Linked DNA regions of Homo sapiens. The protein of the gene in region 2 purifies or fractionates together with the protein of the main gene of each other region. This does not show direct contact. Each region holds a gene or a part of one and is shown on either strand. Other genes may lie near its edges.

Evidence for each region. Proteins that work in one complex are often made in the same cells at the same time.
Region 1: the proteins of SLC47A1 (region 2) and EFNB2 purify together in Homo sapiens (affinity purification with mass spectrometry; one large-scale study listed by BioGRID and IntAct). This does not show direct contact.

The regions. Positions count from the first base shown.
Region 1 is NC_000013.11:106,532,863-106,537,099, reverse strand, and holds the start of EFNB2 (ephrin-B2 isoform 1 precursor), read left to right. Parts: upstream 1-1,437; 5' UTR 1,438-2,135; coding exon 2,136-2,257; intron 2,258-4,237. UniProt on the Homo sapiens protein: Cell surface transmembrane ligand for Eph receptors, a family of receptor tyrosine kinases which are crucial for migration, repulsion and adhesion during neuronal, vascular and epithelial development.
Region 2 is NC_000017.11:19,571,187-19,575,928, forward strand, and holds part of SLC47A1 (multidrug and toxin extrusion protein 1), read left to right. Parts: exon of another isoform or gene 1-291; coding exon 292-386; intron 387-1,593; coding exon 1,594-1,675; intron 1,676-4,742.

The sequences.
Region 1 (4,237 bases), on a different chromosome or scaffold from region 2:
TAAACTAGTCTTCACAAGCTTTTACCACTCCAACTGAGATGTATACGTTAAGTTAGACTAATGTTTCAAAAACGGATACTTAAAAGCAACGTACCATAAAAATCTTCAGAAATTGTTACAAAGAAGAGTGAAAGAAAACAAGGTGTTTTACCATATGCATTTTTAAATTTAGCGTAGTGGATACTTTGTTTTAAAAATACATAATTTGTAGAATTACTGCCCAGTTTGTGTTTGAAACATAAATCCTGGGGTGGACGGCATTAAATTGAAAAAAAACGTGGGCATACAGTATATTTTAATTTTTCATACTGAATCGTACATTTGCACTGTGCCTTATTTCTACCGTGTTCTTCCTACTGTTGGACATATAAAAAGATTTTCCTTGGAACTGTGACTTGATTAGATGCTGCAGTATGCTGGATCCGGGTCGGTGGACCGCAGAGCGCTCGAGATGCGGAGAAGCAAAGCTGGCCGCTAGTGGGCGCTGTGGCTCCGTGGAAGTCACGGACGAGCGTCAGCACCGGCGCTCGACCGGGAAAGTAGCGAGGAGTTCCTGCCAGCTCTGCTCTGGGGTCTTGCAGACGCCGAGTGAGAAGCACATGCCTTGACTTTTCCATCTCACACCCTCTAAATCTCTGGTCACTTTGGGAAGCGCGCGTGTCTCCTAGAGGCTAGTGAGACGGTCCCCGCGTCGTGCCTGTGCCGGCGACACGCGGGGAAAGCTCCAGGGGCGCCACCTTCCCGGGGGGCCAGGAGGGAAGGGAGACGCCCGCAGAGAAGGCGGGAGGCGACGATGCTCAGGCCCTGATTAGAGCTGCAAATTCCGGCGCCGCGTCGCAGGAATCGTCTTGCAATTCCCGGCCCCACTGACTGAAACTGAGCCGTAGGCGATTGGTACCAAAATCAAGTGAGAAGCCCTCGCCGAGAGGCGTCGGGAGAAGCGCGCAGAAGCCGGGAGCTCTAAGGGTGCGCGCGGAGTGCAAGTCTTGCACGCGGGGCAGCGCCGCATCTGCGGAGAAGGGACGCCGAGCGGAGCCTGCTGCCTTCCGCACTGCTCGAGGGAAAGCCGCGCCCTCTGATTCCGCCGAGGGGGAAGGCGCCCCCGGGCGCGGAGACAGGTGGCCCGCTACTCGGCCGTCGCTGTTTCCACGTCTGCACCGCGCCCAGAAGGCCTCTCGCCGCCCCGGGGGCGCCCTGTGCACGCGCTGAGCGCTTCTCCTGCCCGGCTTCTGCTCCGCTCCCGCCGCCCGCGGGAGCCAGGGGCGGGGCTCACCTGTCAGCCCGAGCCCCGCCTCGCGGCACCCAATGTCGGGAGGGGATGGCGGACGGACGGACCGGCCGTCCAACCAGCGCGCGGCCGCGGAGCCGCGGGCCAATGGGCTTCGCGCGGCGGGGCGGGGCCCCGCGTTTATAGCGCTCTGACAGCGCGGCGGCCGCGCTGACTCTCCTCGGCGGGGACCGCGGCGCCGGCCGGAGCGAGGAGCTGCGCACGCAGCGGGTCCCGGCGCCCTCCCCGCACACAAAGGCCCGCGCGCGTCCGGAGCCCGCGGCGGGGACCGAGCTCCCTCTTTCCTGCCCTGGGGGCCGGGAGCCGCGCGGACTGAGAAGGCTCCTGCGCGCCCGGAGGCGCCCTACTCCGCTCCGTGCTCCGGGACATGGAACCGCGCCGACGCGGCGCCCGCGCGCTCGGGCCGCTGCCCGCTGCACTGGATCTATAGTCACAGGCGGCCCCGCTCGGGGCGCAGCGCCCGCCGCCCGCGCCGGTCGTCTCCGCTCCGGGTCTTTGTGTCCCAGCCCGCACCCGCCCCGCGCCCACCCGCCAGCCGCGGCCGGCCCGGCACCCTGGAGCCGCACGGGAGTCGGCCGTCCGAGCTGCGTCCGGCGCGGCGCCCCGGAACCCCGAGTCCGCCGCGCCGCCGCGCCCCGCGCGTGCGCTCCCGCCCCGCGCCCTGAGGGCCCCGGAGAGCGAGCGCACCTGGCCCGGCGACCGCTGGAGCTGCGCAGCGCGCCTCGGAGCTGCCTGCGGGCGCACGCCGTCTTCCCCGCCAGTCTGCCCCGGAGGATTGGGGGTCCCAGCCTGCGTCCCGTCAGTCCCTTCTTGGCCCGGAGTGCGCGGAGCTGGGAGTGGCTTCGCCATGGCTGTGAGAAGGGACTCCGTGTGGAAGTACTGCTGGGGTGTTTTGATGGTTTTATGCAGAACTGCGATTTCCAAATCGATAGTTTTAGAGCCTATCTATTGGAATTCCTCGAACTCCAAGTAAGTGGCGTCCGCGATCCCCCTATGTCCCCGCCCCGGGGTCCGCCGCGCCGTCCGGGCGGGAGGAGGGGTCAGTCCGCGGGGCCTCGGAGCCTGTTTCTGGAACCTCGGTTCCCCGTCCCCCACCCCCAACCCCCGCCCCATTTCACTAGGTGGAGACTCCTCGCTCGGCTTTCCAACCCGAGCCCCGCTGGAACGGACGGTCTCTCCGCCTTTCCTCCCCCGAACGCTCCCAGGCGCTAAAAGCTACTATCGGCTCGGGTGTCAAGTCCGGGAAGGTGTCCGATGGCGATACCTGACCCTCTCCTGTTTTCGAGGACGAAGGACATGGCCACAATCTAGGCTGGCCGGCACGCGGGGACTGGTGGGCTCTGGAGAGAGGCGGAGATGCTGCATTCGCGGGGAGCGCGGGCGGCGTGGTCCGGGGCCCGCGGGCGGGCGACCGGGGTGGCAGGACGCTGGCAGCGAAGCGCGTTCTGGAGAGGGGAGCCTGGAGTCGCTACGCTGCCCGCAGAGCCCTGGAGCCGGGGCGCCTTGGCACCGCGCCGCCAGCCCGAGGGTGCGCGGGGAGCTCGCCTGCTTCGCAGGAGAACTCGGGCGTCGAGCCCTTTCCTCCGCGCCGGGGAGACGGGCCTTAGGCTTCTCCCTGAGGGCCCGCCGCACCTCGGCCTCCCGCTTCGTTCATAAGCCGGTAGCCCCGGAGTATGCGGTCTCGATGGCCGACCTGATTGTAATGCACTTCCTATAAAAGCTTAGGGCCCTGCCCAGTCGACACTGCTCCTGAAGCCTTCTCCCTCGGGACCCTGGTAGGAATGGGATCCTTAGGATCAGATTTGCTCTTACCGGACTCTACAGCCGGGAGCGAGCCAGGCCTTGTGGAGAGTAACTTTCAGTTTGGGCCACCAGAGTGCATTCAGAATTTAGAAAATCCCATCCATCCCTAAATCTGTGTGGTCATAACTCGTAGTCATCTGGGTATTCAGTACTGTGTATCCCCTTATTTCGAATCACAGCCAAAACATATTTTACAGAATCTTGGAATTGTAGTCTCGGGAAACTTGGAGAAGAAGTATGCAGACATTAGCTGGTTTCTGGAGAAAACGTTTGAGATCAGAAGCAAAATCAATGGCCTAATTGAAGTTGAGCAAGTTGGGCCTGGTTTTAGGAGAAAAGAAATGGGGGATTGATTTAGAAATCACGTCTTAAAGGAGTGTGTCCATTCTCTTAAAAGTGTCAAATTTCAAATTCACTAACATGTTAACCAAGAATCCCTTCATGAAAAGGGCGAAAACGTCGGTTACAAATCGGTTTAAACAAATGTTTGTATGATGCTAGAAGGCACTTTCAACACCGCTCATACGGAGAAGTTACTTAGCTCTGCCTCCTTCCATGTAGTCTGCTCTTGCATGGATTATATTTTTAATGTAAATTGTTGTATTTGCTGATGAAGTACTGGCGGCGGCATCTTTGCATCGATGCCGGCTCGGGAGGCGCCAGGTGGTGCCGGAAGGAGCCGGGCTAGGACCTCGCGCAGCAGCGGGTCCCGGAGTCCGGGAGAGGCGGGCGGGCGGGCGAGGCGGTCGCGGGGAGCCCGCGGCGCCGCTGCCCGCCCGGTGCCTCCAGAGGTCACTCTTCCATGCGGAATCGCGCAGCGCCAGGCCTCGCCCCTCCCCCAGGCCGCCTGCTCCAGCCACTCTGCACTTTCACTGACCGGTTCTCTTTGAGGCTGTTTTTTTTTTTCTTATGAGGATTTAATATTTCTGTTTAAATCTAGTTGAAAGCAATTCCGTTAGCCTCTTCAGCGTTTAGTTCGGTGTGTGTATCTTTATCTTTGCGCTATATTAACTATTAGTTTGTGTGTATCCGGTAGGAGAATTAGAAATACCTAGTTGGGAGAAAAAGAAAAGTAGAACAATAGTTATTTCAACCTAAGGTTTAGACGTTAATAACTTCTTTTTGTAATGTGTCGAGATGGGGGGT
Region 2 (4,742 bases):
AATCAGTAAGGCCAAAAATATCCTCTGAATATTTGTTCCGAAATCCTGAACCAAAAGAGATGGCCCTTTTGGGGGTGGCCTCAAGGAGTACTGGGCTTTCCAGAACCTTCTGGAACCTTCTGGAAGCCTGAGGAGGAGCAGGATAGAGGTCTCTGGCCCGCTGTGGGCTCCACCTCAGCCATGAAAGCAGATATTCAGTATGGCTGACAGAAGTGATATAGGCAAAACATACTCCCCAGGGGCAGCTGGTTTTCTATGGAATTAACCTCTATTAAATATTTCTATTTCTAGGTCTGTGGTCAGGGATCATCATCTGTACAGTCTTTCAAGCTGTGTGTTTTCTAGGCTTTATTATTCAGCTAAATTGGAAAAAAGCCTGTCAGCAGGTAACTATGTTCATTCTGTCCCGGTAAAGGTTCCTCTCCTAGAAAAACAGGATCTGATCTGGCTCTCCCTTTTTTCTTTTGGAAAGTTCTTTTCTCATTTTCTTTATTCTTATCTCATGAATACTATTGTTCTTGTTGTTTTAACTAGACAGTTCAGATGTGAAGGGCCAGATGATCCTGGCTTTATCTATTCCCAGAAAAACAGGGGACTCCTTTCTTCCTTGTCTCCCATGCCAGGCTGTCACCCTTGTGCAGGAAAATCCAATTTCAGGACAAGAATTAGAACTGGAGAGAAATGTGGGATGCATCAAAGTCATCCTGATGTTGTTTTTATGGTCTCCAAATGTTTTGTTAAGATACTTGTGTGCATCCTTCCCTTCAACTTTCTAGGGTCAGTGTGAGGTCTAGAAATAGGTGGTAGAAAAATGAGATGAGTCGAGGTACAGTGGCTTATGCCTGTAGTCCCAGCTATTCAGGAGGCTGAGGCAGGAGGATCGCTTGAGCCCTAGAGTTCGAGGCTGCAGTCATCTGTGATCACTGCACTCCAGCCTGAGTGATGGAGCGAGACCCTGTCTCTACAAATAAAAATGTTTTAAAAAGAAAGAGATAAAGTAAAAAGGGAGAGTTCTAAATGATCTTGGTCCCTCTCTTGTCCCTGTCTCCCTCACCCTGTACTGTTCCCATCCCACCTTCCCTTTCATGGACCCCATTTCAGCCTTTTCTGTTTTCTTTTTCTTAAGAGACAGGCTCTCACTCTGTCACCCAGGCTGGACTATAGTGGCAGGATCACATCTCGCTGGAGTCTCAACCTCCTGGGCTCAAGTGATCCTCCTGTCTCAGCCTCCCAGGTAGTTGGGAATACAGACATGCGCCACCATGCCTGGCTGTTTTTTTTGTTGTTGTTGTTATTTTTTTGTTTTTAATTTTTTAATTGAGATGGGATCTTGCTGTGTTGCGCAGGCTGGCCTTGAATTCCTGGGCTCAAGCAATCCTCTCTCCTCAGCCCCCCAAAGTGCTGGGATTACAGGTGTGAGCACTGAGCCTGGCCCCATTTCAATCTTTATGAAAGATGACCTGTGAATGAGAGGAACTTCAGCTATACATGCCAATTAAGGAAAATGGCTTGGCTCTTCCTAAACTAGGTGGTCAAGTAAAATACCATATTAACACTATTGTGAAGCCTGATGGACTGAGTTTCATTTTCCAGGCTCAGGTACACGCCAATTTGAAAGTAAACAACGTGCCTCGGAGTGGGAATTCTGCTCTCCCTCAGGATCCGCTTCACCCAGGTAAGATATGACTCCCTCAGCCCTTGGACAGGCCTGTCTAGGTAGGACTGGAGGGGCTGTTAGTGAGACACAGCTAGATTTGCTGCTATGAGCTCTCATTTAAATAGGGCAATAATGTTTCAGAAACACATGATAAAGCCAAGTAACACACAATTCAAGGTAAACTGAGTTCATTCCACACATTAGTAAACCGCTATAGATGACTGAAAGGTCCCCAGTTCCTCCCCTAATTTCTGCAAGCACTTTGCAGGCATTTCTAACACTTGGAAATACTGTGCTTCTACCATAGCTTAGAAACTGACATTTGTTTGTTTTAATGGGGTCCCTGCTGTTCATCAGGCAGACACTTGTGGGCTTTAAACAGGTCGTTGCTTGGACCTTTGCTTCTGATTCACATTGTGCAAATGTGGTTATGGTTTTCTTCAGTCAGTTGAGTAATCCCCCCGATTCCTGGCCCCTTAGGCAGTTAGCCACCCACTCTCAGTAACCCTTGCTCCTTTATAATTTAAACACTTTGACTTCATAGAATGGCTGATACTTAGTCAGTGGTCAGTTGTGTTGTTTCTGCCAATTTTCATTCATGTTGTCTAGGCTCCTGTGCTGTGTGTCTGGTTATCTTTGATTTTAATTTATTTTTAAATTAATTTTTTAAAATTAAAGAAAAACTTTTTTTTTTTTAAATAGAAAGAGGGTCTTGCCCTGTTGCCCATGATGGTGTGCAGTGTAGCTCACTGCACCCTTTACATCTTGGGCTCAAGCGATCCTCCTGCCTTGGCCTCCCAAAGCAGTGGGATTACAGGCGTGAGCCACCACACCTGGCCTGGTTATCTTTGATTATGTTCCAGACTTTATATTTGAAAATTGTTCATAGAAGTAACTTGAGCCTGAAAGAATGTTGTCTATTTATCTTCAGAGAGGATTTTCTTTTCCTTCTGTTGGACACTGAGGGTGACCAGCAGTCTAGGGCAATCTTGGAAATGGAGCTTTCTGGAGCACCCAGCCAAACTGAAGGTGTGCTGCAGCCAGTGTGAGGCTTGGTTTACTTCTTCTGGTTCATGCTTTTTTTTTTTTTTTTTTTTTAAAAGCAGTCTCACCCTATTGCCCAGGCTGGAGTGCAATGGTGCGATCTCAGCTCACTGCAACCTCCGCCTCCCGGGTTCAAGCGATTCTCCTGCCTCAGCTTCCCAAGTAGCTGGGATTATAGGCGCCCACCACCATACCTGGCTAATTTTTGTATTTTTAGTGGATATGGAGTTTCACCACGTTGGTCAGGCTGGTCTCGAACTCCTGACCACAAGTGATCCACCCTCCTCGGCCCCCCAAAGTGCTGGGATTACAGGCGTGAGCCACCACACCTGGACTGGTTCATCCTTAAGTCTTGGATGCAGCCCTTTGGGGTTCTAACCACAAGTACAGAGAGGTTTGCCAGGGCCTGATTCTTGGTAGGTACCCAAGTCGCCAAAGCCCTGGTCAGCGTCTCAGTCATGTGATCTGGATGTAGGTCTCTCTGACCTGCATCCTCTCATCTCTCTGATCTGAATGAACTCTCTGATGTGAAGCAGCCTCAGAGGCTGGGCAGCCCCTCTGGGTTTCCTTCGTCCCTGGATCTTGCCCTGGTGACTCTTCATTACATTGTTTGCATTCTGATGCCTTCAAGATGATATTTAATTTGTTTTATTGAGGTTCTATAATGATCTTCAGGGAAGGGTTGGTGGATGTTTTCTACCATCTTGCCAATTTCCCTGATTTGTGAAATCCGCATAACAATAGCACTTATCCCTGTTGTTGTTTTTGAGTCTCACTCTGTCGCCCAGGCTGGAGTGCAGTGGCTCGTTTTCACTGCAACCTCTATCTCCCAGGTTTAAGTGATTCTCCTGCCTCAGCCTCCTGAGTAGCTGGGATTACAGGTGTGTGCGGTGGTGTACCACCACACCCTGCTAATATTTGTATTTTTAGCAGAGACGGGATTTCACCATGTTGGCCAGACTTTTCTTGAACTCCTGACCTCAAGTGATCCGCCTGGCTCGGCCTCCCAAAGTACTGGGATTACAGGCGTGAGCCACCACACCCGGCCTAACAATGGCACTTACTTTTATACTACCGCTGTTGGGGTTGAGAAGCACCCAGAACTGCCTGACCAGGGAAAGCATTTTGTTAAGTGTGAGCTGGTATGATTCTGTTCAAAATGATTTTCTTTTTCTCCCTCCCTCCCTCCCTCCCTTTTTCTCTCTTTCTCTCTTTCTCTGTCACCCAGGCTGGAGTGCAGTGGTGCGATCAAGGTTCACTGCAGCCTTGACCTCCTGGGCTCAAGCAACCTGCCTGTCTCAGCCTTCCAAAGTGCTGGGATTAGAGGCATGAGCCACTGCACCCGGCCCAAAATGATTTTCTTTCAGAACTCTGAGGATATTGCTACATTCCTAACATTCATCCACTTATGCTCATTAGGAAGTGGGATGGCCAAGCTTATTCTCGTGCCATTATGTAATATGCCTTCATTTTTCTCTTCGGAAGCTTTTAGGACATTTTCTTATTATTATTCCTTTTTTTTTTTTTTTGAGATAGGGTCTTGTTCTGTCACCCAGGCTGGAGTGCAGTGGTGCAATTATAGCTCACTGCAGTCTCAAACTCCTAGGCTCAAACAGTCCTCCCGTTTTAGCCTCCTGAGTAGCTGGGATTACAGGTGCGTGCCACTATGCTCAGCTAACTCTTTAATATTTTTGTAGAGACCAGGTCTTGCTTTGCAGCCCAGGTTGGTCTTGAACTTCTGGATTCAAGCAATCCTCCTGCTTTAGCCTCTCAAAGTGTTGGGATTACAGGTGTGAACCACCACGCCTGGCCTATTACTCTTACTGTTCTGAAGTGTCTTGAGACTAAGTCTAGGTGTGAATCATTATCTGCTTGAAACTGTTGGGGTGAAGGAGAAGCTATCCCCTTGCCCTCCGATGGTTCACTGAAAAATCAACTTATAATAAGGCCGATGAATAAGAGAAAAGGCATACAAATGTATTTAACCATGCAAAAGGGAAGAATCACAGTCATTACCCAACATCCCAGTGAGGCCCAACAC